2 separate regions of the Homo sapiens genome follow, and region 2 is linked to region 1. Evidence: fine-mapped expression QTL. A gene starts in region 1. The other region holds a variant in brackets. All regions are shown on one strand. Distances are from middle to middle.

Evidence for each region. PIP is the estimated chance that this variant, and not a neighbour inherited with it, causes the effect. A credible set is the group of variants that fine-mapping cannot tell apart.
Region 2: its variant is the best candidate, but not a certain one, in a credible set for the expression of AGBL1 in skeletal muscle (FUSION, PIP 0.65).

Annotation. Positions count from the first base shown.
Region 1 is chr15:86,077,696-86,083,077 of GRCh38, forward strand. AGBL1 (AGBL carboxypeptidase 1) reads left to right here and starts at 2,176. Exons shown (of 23, transcript NM_001386094.1): 1 at 2,176-2,328. The coding sequence starts at 2,278.
Region 2 is chr15:86,866,036-86,871,417 of GRCh38, forward strand. The region is part of intron 22 of AGBL1 (AGBL carboxypeptidase 1); the gene reads left to right. Among named protein-coding and RNA genes, the nearest start is that of AGBL1-AS1, 550 kb to the left of the region's middle. The variant T/A (reference allele first, on the strand shown) is at 2,670.

The DNA.
Region 1 (5,382 bases):
GGCCAAGTGGGCAGTAACTTTCCAGAGGATGAAGGGGAGAGCAGCCAAGCTGGGCATGGGAGGCAGATGTGTCACCTGAAAGAGAGGGAGCCCATTCCTTATCTCACAAGGGGTTTACTGGAAACCAGGTTCCTGGCACTGCGGTGGGGGGAAAGTCATCATTAAGTAGAAGAGAGCAATCCTTTACATATAGGATTTTAATCTCACTTCTGCCCTATGCAATTCCAGGCAGCTTAACCGAGACACTCTTCAAAATGGAGAAAATTTTGCTCCAATTCTAATATCAGGGAGTGTGACCACAAAACCTTTAGTTCTCTCCTCTGAGGTCATTTTTATGACTTCTCACTACTTTTTATCTTTGAACTATTTTTTAGGTCTATGTTGGGAAAATGGTTTTGTTTCTTTCTTCCCCCATCTCTTTTCTTTATCCTCCAGTTGACAACCATGAAATGATCTCCCCTTAAGACAATCACATGAGACAGTTCTGTCTTCCCTTCACCCTGGGCCTTAGAGGATTAGAGAGCACATGCCCTAAAAAGCGTCACCCTCCCATAGAAATCCATAGAGAACCTCTATTTCTACCCTCCTGGCAGCAGATGTAGAGAAATTGGGGTAGGGGTAGACGGCGTCAACCCCACCCCGCAAGCTTCATAAATGTGAGCGCTTATAGTCAGTTCCCAAGATGGGAGGCCTTCATATTTAAAGCCATTAAGTGGAAATTTCTTGAGGGCAGGACTACATGAATTTGCCCTTGAATTGAGGGTTTGGCCAGGCCTGACCCCTGACTCGGGACTTCAGAACACTTAGGCCAAGCAGGATCTGGAAATGCAGTTTCTTCAGTCACCCCAATGTGCTTGGTACCTGCCTAATGAATGCTTGTGATGCTCACAGAATCTCCCTAAACTCCGCACGGGGGTGTTGGCTGGCAGCCCACTCCCCCAGTCACTGAGACTCTTCTATAATACCTGACCGTGCTCTCAGTCAGAATCTCCACTGAGCTCAGCGCTCCAATTTCATGCAATAAAGCGAGCTTTCAACACAGTAAAGTTGTGCTTTGACCTTGCTGGGCACTCGTTTATTGGGTCAAATATTGTCAGAGTTGTTGAACACGCAGGCAATGTAATCAATATAGTCGAAATTGGAGATTTCCAAACTTTAATCCTCTGGTCATTTTGTTAACCAGCTCTAAATCCCCCGAGGATCTGGTTTAAATGCAGTTTCGGACACAGTAGTTCTGGGGAGAGGCGTAACAAGCTTCCAGGTGACGCCCTAGCACCATACTTTGAGAAGTCAGCATTGAAGGGTGTTGATATGGGGAGGAGGAGAAGCTAGTCGCTAAGACTCTGCTCACACATCCCTAGCAGAAAACATAGAAAGTGATCATGGATTCTACATTGGTCTGAAGGAAACTTGTCCCGGGCATCTGCTGTCCCTGAGGCTGAGGACATGGCTCTCAGACCTCCATTACTTTGAAGTGTTTGCTGCAGCAAGAGGCAGGATGGTGCAATGGGTAGTGCTTGTGTTCTGGTGCCAGCTTGCCTGTTTGAGGCCTGGCATGCAATTCTAAGCTCTGTGTTCTTGTGGCTTAACATTTCAGTGCCTTAGTTTTCTTATTTGTAAAACAGGGATAGGGTAGTCATAATAGTACCCACCTCTATTAGGTTACTGTAAAAATTAAAAGATTACGTAAGGGACGTGGTCCATAAAAAATGTCCAGAATACTTATTTTCCTTTTCAGCCAGAGCTCCTGTTTCTAAGCCTGGGACCTCAGGGGGCCCTGGGTTTCTATGCCCTGAACTGCCACAGTTGTGCAAGCACTCTTGGGTCTCCTGTTACCCGGGAGCCGGCAACAGACCAAAATAAAGAGGTGGGGTGGGGTAGCGGGGCGGGCTGAGCGAGCCTCTAGAGGGAGTCTGACCAGGTCAGCTGGGAATGCCTGTCAGCCATCCAGGGTGGCTTCTCCTTTGCTCTGCTCCTGCATGGGCCTGGAGGTGGGTGAGTGACTCATGCTGGTGCCCTCCCCACCCCTGCACCCAAATGCTCAGCCCTCCCCACAGCAGGGGCTCACCTAATCCCCACAGTGGGAGTCGGTGGGTATTCACGCCTGTGCCGAGGTCTAGGGTTGCACCGCGCTGACTTCACACTCAGCAGCATGTGCAGCTGAGGCCTCCGGGCAGTCGTCTCCTGCGAGGCGGGCAGCGAGGTCAGCTTGGCAGCCGCTGCCTCTCCAGCCTGGATCTGGCCGCAGGCAGCGGTTCCCTAGGACCCGAGAAAAGGATGGCCGAACAAGAAGCTAGTGGGCTACAGGTCCTGCTGCACACGCTTCAGGTAGGAAAGGGTAGAGTGGGTGCAGAACCCGGCGGGCTGGGTGTTTGCCTGGGCTGGCCTGCCTGGGAGCTATGCACACAGTCCCCTCTGGCAGTCACTGGCCCAGTTTGTTAACAGCAAGAGAACAGGAGTCGGCTCTCACCTTGAAGCTGACCTAAGTGATGCTATGGAATTCAAATATTAAACACGACGATGTTGATGATTGTTCTGCTTAAATTATTGATCCTCGTGGGATCAGAGGCTCTGGGTAAAAGATCCGAGTTTTCTAGAAATGGGAAAGGTGGAGAAAAAGCCTGTTTGGCAAATGAAGGGGACCTGTTGAGGCTCCTCCTGAATAAGGCTGGAGACCTGCTGAGAGCATGCAGAGCTGTCTGGGAGGACAGGGTAGGTGAGGAGAGGACCCTTCTGGGTATCTCCTGCTAAATGGCTATCTTACTGGGCTCCCACATTGTAGTTACATCAGAATGGCCTGGGATGCCGACTATCAGTGCATTTTCCCAGGCAGGATCTGACTAGAAGGTGTTTGAATCATGTAGGGCAGTAGCCTGGGAAACTGCCTTCTCCCTGGGGGATGCTATTCATTCCTAATTTTGAGAATTCTTGTTCTACAGCAGTGGTTTGCAAACTTGTCTGCACATTAGAATCACCTGGAGAGGGTCAAAAAATACTCATGCTTGGGACCCACCCCCAAAGACATGGATTTAACTGATCTAGGGATCAATCCGAGCGTTAGAGTTTGAAAACTCCCCCGGGGTCTCCATGTAGATTTAAGGCTGAGAACCACTACTCTCTATGCTTGTAGTTAGCTGGATTCAGAGGATGCCAGTGTTCAAAAAGGCCCAAGGGGTCTTCTACCCCAGGAGTTTAAGCTGGAAGTTCCTGGAAGGGGTCACAAGATGATGGGCTTGTGGGGGCGGGGGGGGGTCCATGACCCCATTCCCCTGTTTAGAATATAAACATTTTGTACGTATTTTCCTTTTTCCCTGTTGGGAAAAATGTTCTTAATTTTCCTCTGATTGTTTTTGTTTTTATTTTGTTGAGACAGCGTCTCACTCTGTCGCCCAGGCTGGAGTGCAATGGTGTGATCTCGACTCACTACAACTTTTGCCTCCCAGGTTCAAGCAATTCTCCTGCCTCTGCCTCCCAAGTAGGTGGGATTATAGGCTCCTGCCACCATGCCTGGCTAATTTTTTGTATTTTTAGTAGAGATGGGGTTTCACCATGTCGGCCAGACTGGTCTCAAACTCCTGACCTCAGGTAATCCACCTCGGCCTCCCAAAATGCTGGGATTACAGGCGTGAGCCACTGTACCTGGCCATTTTTCTCTGATTCTTAAGAAGATTTGTATTCCTGAAAGTTTAAGAACCAATAAGTGCAACCTTCAGGTGTGCAGATAAGGAAACGGAATCTCAGAAGTGAAATAGGCTCCTTGATGTCAAATGGCTACATAGTAGGAGAACTGGGCCTTCAATATTCAGTTGACTTGGCGTCCTTTGACTCATTCTATCTGATTCATGCAAGGTGAGAATGTATCTGACCAGGGGTACTGGAGGCAGGAGTGGACCTCAAAAGAAATTTGCAAAATAAATCCAAGGATTTATTTGTATCTGGCTAGATTTATTTGATTTAATAACCAGGTACAATAAGCTGACATTCTGAGACCTCTTCTAATTTCTGAATAGTTGCATGGAGATCTTGATTAACTGATTCAAACAACTGAAAATATCTCATGGACAGAATTTTCCTTGCACTAGCTGTCTAGGAAAGAGGGAAAGTAATAAGTTGGTAATAGGGGTTCAGTAAAAATGAATGTCCTGTAGTCGGCCTCAAAGTCACTTCAGGTTGAACTCAATTGCCTGCATTCCCACCAGTGAGAATTGATAATTGATGTTTAGCATGATCACCCCGGGGCACTGCTAGATTCCCAATTATCAAAGAAAGATTTAATTATGTTCACTAGACTCTACTTAGTTCCCAATTAAGCAGAACATTATGATAACAGGAGCACGCTTCCTGTTTACTCCTCAGTTGATCAGAGTTTGGTTTAGAATTGACCTGGGTTCCTGGCCTGGCCTGCACCAAGTGCTTCCCTAAGCCCTGTTTCTGTCTCTACGGTAGAAGTCAGAACTCTGAAACGCTTTTTAAAAAAGAGAACCCAGAACATATATTCTGTGGAATAATCTTTCATGATGGATTTGATGTCCTGTCCCCATCCCTGCTCCCCATGGACTTAAACTAGGTGAGCTCACATTGTTTCTGAGAAAGGGTTAGCTGAACCTGTCTCAGTTGGGGATCCCAAAGATCTTACCAATTCAAACCAGTCTGTCTCTTCTTGTGCACAAGGTGACAGACAGAAGGCTTTGAATTGCTTCTCAAACCTTTGGGGAAAGCAGTGAATAAGTTTGAACCAAATGTGAGCTTAGGTCTCAGTTCCCATGTCTTTTAGGAGTGCCCCAAAAGGTTGCCAAGGGAAGGAAGAAAGAGATTGGAGGGACAGAAAAGGCAAACACAAGCATAACAGAATATCCCTGTGCTATGTTTGTGGATGTCCTCCTACTTAAGCATATCACCATTTCTGACTCTTTAGGGGCATAAAATAAACCGGGCCACTAAGAAACATCAGTTTTCTGTGTGTTAACTTTTTCCTGCACACATGAGGAAGGGGTAAGTGGTTTTCCCTACCACAACTTGAAAACAGCTTCTTTATCTCTGTCCCGAAGGTCTGAGAATCAGATTTCTACCCAGACATGTTCCAACTTCCTGGCCTTTACAGCGTGGGTGTGAGGCAGAAAATCAGACTGACTGATGTGGGTCTGGGTGAAGCAGGAGGCAGGCAGCCCACAGCACAGGTGCGAGAGGCAGAAAGGACTGGATCCAGCCCCTTGTCTGGCACTTACTCGGCTGTTTATCCTTATGAAAGTCCCTCGACCTCTCTGAGCCTCCATTTATGTAATCTGTAAAACAAGGGCCTTAAAAATACGTTCCTTAGCATTTCTGTGAGGATTAAGAGAATACATCTGAAAAGCGCTTGTAAACTCTAAATGGCTGTTTGAA
Region 2 (5,382 bases), 790 kb after region 1:
TCCCCCCAAGTTGCACTGTAAGAAACATCTTTGTCATCTACTCTGCCATTCTTTTTGGCTCCCTTCTAAATTCTCAAACCACAATTTCCTTTCATCATAACTCTGAATATAAAAATAAGATCATTTTTCTTCTCATAACTGGATTATGACTCAAAATAAACATTCCATTGAAGGAATTAGAAAAGTCATCTTGACAAATGAAGGACAATGGGTATTTTAATAGTGACCATTATCATTGCCTATATACCATTTCCTCAGGTACTATTCTTGAATTGTTGGTTGGACTTCAGTTCCATTGATGGCCTGAGCCATATTTACTTCATGTCGCTATGGCATTGATCACACCCTCAAAGGAGGTATGCAAACTGTGATCTTGTTTCTGTGACAAAACCAGGTTGGGGGAATGATGGTTAATACAACAGTCATCTACTTCTTGCATAAGTCTTTCAGAAAACAATTATTGAGCACCTACTCTTTCCCAAAGGAGGCATTTTTCTAGATGCTGGCAAATCAACAATAAATAGAATACTACCTCTGGCCGGGTGTGGTGGCTCAAGCCTGTAATCCCAGCATTTTGGAGGGCTGAGGAAGGCAGATCACTTGAGGTCAGAAGTTCAAGACCAGCCTGGCCAACATGGTAAAACCCCGTCTCTACTAAAAACACAAAAATTAGCTAGGCATGGTGGTACATGCCTGTAGTCCCAGCTACTCAGGGCTGAGGCAGGAGAATTGCTTGAACCTGGGAGGCAGAGGTTGCAGTGAGCTGAGGACAGAGCAAGACTCCATCTCAAGCATTTGTTAAATAGAACTATGCTTAGTCCACTATTTGCCCATCTGACAGAGACTGTAGAAGTCAGAAAAGCTTCCCAGAGAAGAGAGTATCAGTAGAGCATTTGCAAGAATGGATTGAAGTTAGGCAAGATGCAGAACAGAGGTCCCATTTGATTAACTAATGTCTGCAAGGGCATGAGTTGAGATGGTGAGACACTCCTAGGAGACATCTATCATATCAGTGTGGCTGTGGCATGGAGTTTGGGAGTGGAGTGAGTAATGAGGAAGAAGAGGGGTCATGTCATAAACACACTTGCATCTCATGCTGTCAGGACTTAAGCTTTATCCTTTTCTTGGGGGTGGGGGAATTGTATTTCACAATCATAAATGGTAGGTACAATTATAGAACTCATTGAAGGTTTACTCAGCCCTCATTTTTTTTCTTTACCCACGTTGGTCACAGCATAACACTTCCCTCAAAACCACACTTGATGTGCTGGTACTTCAATTTTCCTTTTGCCAAGAGTTGACATTATGCTAACTTTACATTTTACAAATCAACTCACCTACTAGGTAGGAGAGAATAACTTTCTGCGTTTTGTGGTACATGTTTCCACTTACTGCTTGCCCCGAGGATGAGGGATTCTGTATGTGGCAGGAGTGAAAACAACAGTTTTTTTAAAAAATTAAGCATTAAATTACACTGGACGTGTTTAATTTTGTTTTCAGTAATGGGCTTTGATGCTTTGGTGAAGACTCATTGTGTTATACTTGAAATAGAAACATGTCATGTGAGTGAACCTGTGAGGCGGGGAGAACAATAAAATGGCAAAATGCACCCGGACTAGGTGGGGCTTATAGTGCTAGATATTTTAGGCTCAATTTTATTGTTCATGGCACTGTGCAAAAATAAATAGACATTTAAAAGAAGTAGGATATATGTTGGTATGAAAGCAGAGGGAAATCAATTAGCAGCTGTAACTTAAAGCTGAGGAAATGGATAGGATTGACTTTAAAGATCTGAGGTACTAATTTGTCTCCTTAAATGCAAATTTCTAAGTTTATCCATGGCCGTCCAATATACAGATATCCCAATGAACCCAGATTATTTTATAATAGGGAATAAAGGAAATAGCAATCGTTACAGAGAGGTGAGCCCTTATTTTGGTGTTTCATAAATGCCTGAATCCAGATCATATATTGGGGCCATGATCCAAGAGATGTCAGATTGTGTATATTTTACAGTTTTTCAAAATAAGGAATTATCAATGTGGCTAATCCGGTCTGTGAGAGGTCAGGATGTAACATCAGATGAAGTTGAACATCGGTCATCAGGTAGAGTTGAAGACACATGAAACGTACATGAAAAAAAACATGAAAAAATAGGCAAGAAGCAAAGGAACAGCCATGGACGTAGAGTGAAGATGATTTGGTTTAATGGGTCACAAGAAAAGCTTCAAACCCTGTGAGGTCGCCAGAGGACTATTCATATGTGGCACTAACTGTATAGCACAAAGCTTGCATATAGCTAACCAAGCCACACAAGACTGTAACCTCTTGGGTCTTTCTAGATGAGAAGTCTTGTTTATATAGCAATTAGAAAATCCTTTATGACTTTTAGCACCAAGCTAAGGGAATTCTTTCAGGTTTAGTGACTAGAAATCATGGAAGAAATGTCCACTTCCCCACAAGGGTGTTGCACAAGGGACACATTCAACTATCACATAATTCTAAGTACTTTCGAATCTAGTGGTTTAAAACTAGAAATTAATGCTTTAAAAACATAGGCGTGTAAAGCATTCGTGAAGAGGATGTTGTAACGAAATATGACTATCTAGAACGACATTAAACTGATTTCCACTCACCCTGGGAATTCATTAAAGAGAAAATCTTCATTC[T/A]GTGACTTCGCACTGTCTGGTTTATATCTGGGCTTATGTCCAACAAAACTACTAAAAAGTAAGGCCTGTGAACCACTAGTAGATATTGGTGGGGTGACAGAAATTAATGGAATTGTGACATGCAACATGTTGAAAAAATAAAAAGCAATCTCAAAATTGGAAAAAAATAGAATAGAAACAACGGGTATGAATTAAACTGCCTGTGCTTTTAGTAGAAGATAATGAAAGAAAGTGGCACGTCCACCTTGGCTTACAGCTAGGACATTCCCAATTCAAGGCCTTTAAATCAACAGCTTCAAGGACCAAGCAAAGGCATCATTTTGAAAGAATTTTTAGGGCATTTATATACTAGCTGTCAACTGCCTTGGTGGCAGGGTGATAAATGCTTCTGAATTTGAGTTAAGCAGACTAAACTCTATGAAACTGTGCTTGCACAACTGATAAACTGTCTAATGGTCAATTCTCCAAAATTCCCACTGGGTAAGACAGAGAGGTGTGTCAGGGGAAAAGCTAGCATGGAGGTGGGAGATAGAGACACAAGTATGCAAAAGCCACCCCCCACCGTGTCTTCCCAGTGGTCCACGTGATGCCCACCCCTGAATGCACAATGGCACAGCTGCTCCCACCCACCACAGAGAATCCAGCTGCAGGTCTCTCCTCCTCTCTGCCTCAGAGCCGCTCAACATCCTTGGATTAATAATCATGGTCATTTTCAGGGCTTTGGTTTCCTTCCTTAGCAATAAACATGTAGATGTTTTAATCTAAGATATGGTAAAGCTAAATGACACACTAGTGTTCAACTTCCTTAGAGAAGAACTTGGGGCACAGTCTAGAAGTCATGAGGGGCATATTTCATAGGATGTCTATTTAGACCCTGTAGATCCGATATGTGGATAAAGCCTAGAGACAGAGAAGAAAGTGTTACCAAACTTTGCTTGACTTGATTCTAGACAAATGCTTCCTAATAATAGTAATGATAAAATAACAATAATAATTATTATAACCATCCCTACTACCCCAACTATTACACATGCTGACAAGGAGGGCCATGTACCAAGCCCTTGGCTAAGTACTTCACATACCTTATCCCAAGTGGCCCAAGTCTAAGCTTGATCATCTCTTGAGATCCTTTCTACCTTAAGTCATTAAATTGAATTCTCATTTTCCTAGGAAGCTTATGAGGAGACAAGCATCATTTTGTTACTTGACAGTACCTGGTTGCTTACCTGGACTTATGTCCAGCAGAGCTGCAAAATAGGCTAATCCATTGCCCGCAAGTTTCCATTTTGAAACCATTGCATCAAAGTCATATCTCCCTCCTTCCTTCGACTGCATCACCCCACTTCTATTTAGACTGCAGGGCCTTTCAGACCCCCTATTCTAACACACAGATAACCTTGATTAGAAGAGATTCATGTTTATAATTGAACAACATGAACTTTCTAGTTAAATTGTCTTAAGATCATCTAATTGGAAAAGGAAAGAAAAGGGAACTAATTTATAGCCACTAATACTTAATGCTTTATATAGACTAAGAGAAATACTTTATCTCTATTTTTCATCCTCAGTTTACAAGGGAGAAATCTGAGGCTTTGAGAATTTAAGTCACATCTTGAAGGTCAAATAATGAGTAAGTGGCAAAGTCAGGATTTAAGCTTTTCCATTTCCTCTTTCTGCCTCAGAAATAACATTTAAAAGAGAATCCATAGCCTGCATCCAACTGTGGCAAGAAAAAAGTAAAGCATACTGCAAAAAAAAAAAAAAAAAAAAAAAAAAAAAAAAAAAAAAAAAAGAAGAAACAAACACAGCAAAAGCCCTTTCCCTTTGGCATTTAAACATTGCTTGTGTGAAAACATGAGGATGAAAATTGTACACATGCTTACATGAGCAGAAATATTCCTGGGAGCCTTGAGATTTATTTCAGACATATTTCAAATAGATATATGGAAAGCAAGAAAGGAGCAGAGAAAAAAAAGGCATCTGATGAATAAATGAGTGGGAGAAATCATGAGGAAAAGAGATGCAGTGTAATCATGGCCCTGATTTCTTTCAGGATAAACGGGCTTGCTGGTGCTGTCTATACTATAGGGGATACATCATATGTACTGAGATTACTATTTCATCAAAGATGATATTGGATCTGATCTTTCAGTTTGGCCAGTTGGCTACAGAAACAACATTGGAATTTTCCAAACAAAATTTTAGCTCAAGGGAATATCTAAAGTACAGATTCCTTAGTCGACTTGACAGAGAGATTGGGCTAGCTTGCCTTTGGTGCCCAGCAACTAACTGCTTAGGGATAGTAACTCTTATCTGTCGCTCACTATCTCCCTCAACCCACATGATGCCTTCCTGTTGGAAACATTCCATGAAATTAGACAAACTTATCTGAGTGACTTAGCCAGGAAGCCAGCTTAAGAAACCAAATCAGAAAAGCCGTTGTCATTTTGCTTCCTTTCTTCCTCATGATTTGTGGGTAGGAGATGGGAACAGAAAGGAAATTGTCTCCAGTATCCATGATCCCTAGAGACATCCATCTGTCAGATATGGGGCTTGCTATTTCAAAGGGAGTATCTATCTGCAGAGACCCTCAAAAGGATCAAGCTTGACCTCAACCTGTCAACCTGACAACTGTTTCAATAGGAAGCCCAGATACCTTCACAAAACAAGCCTAAATGAACTCCTTGACCTGCCATGAGTCATAGTTTTATTA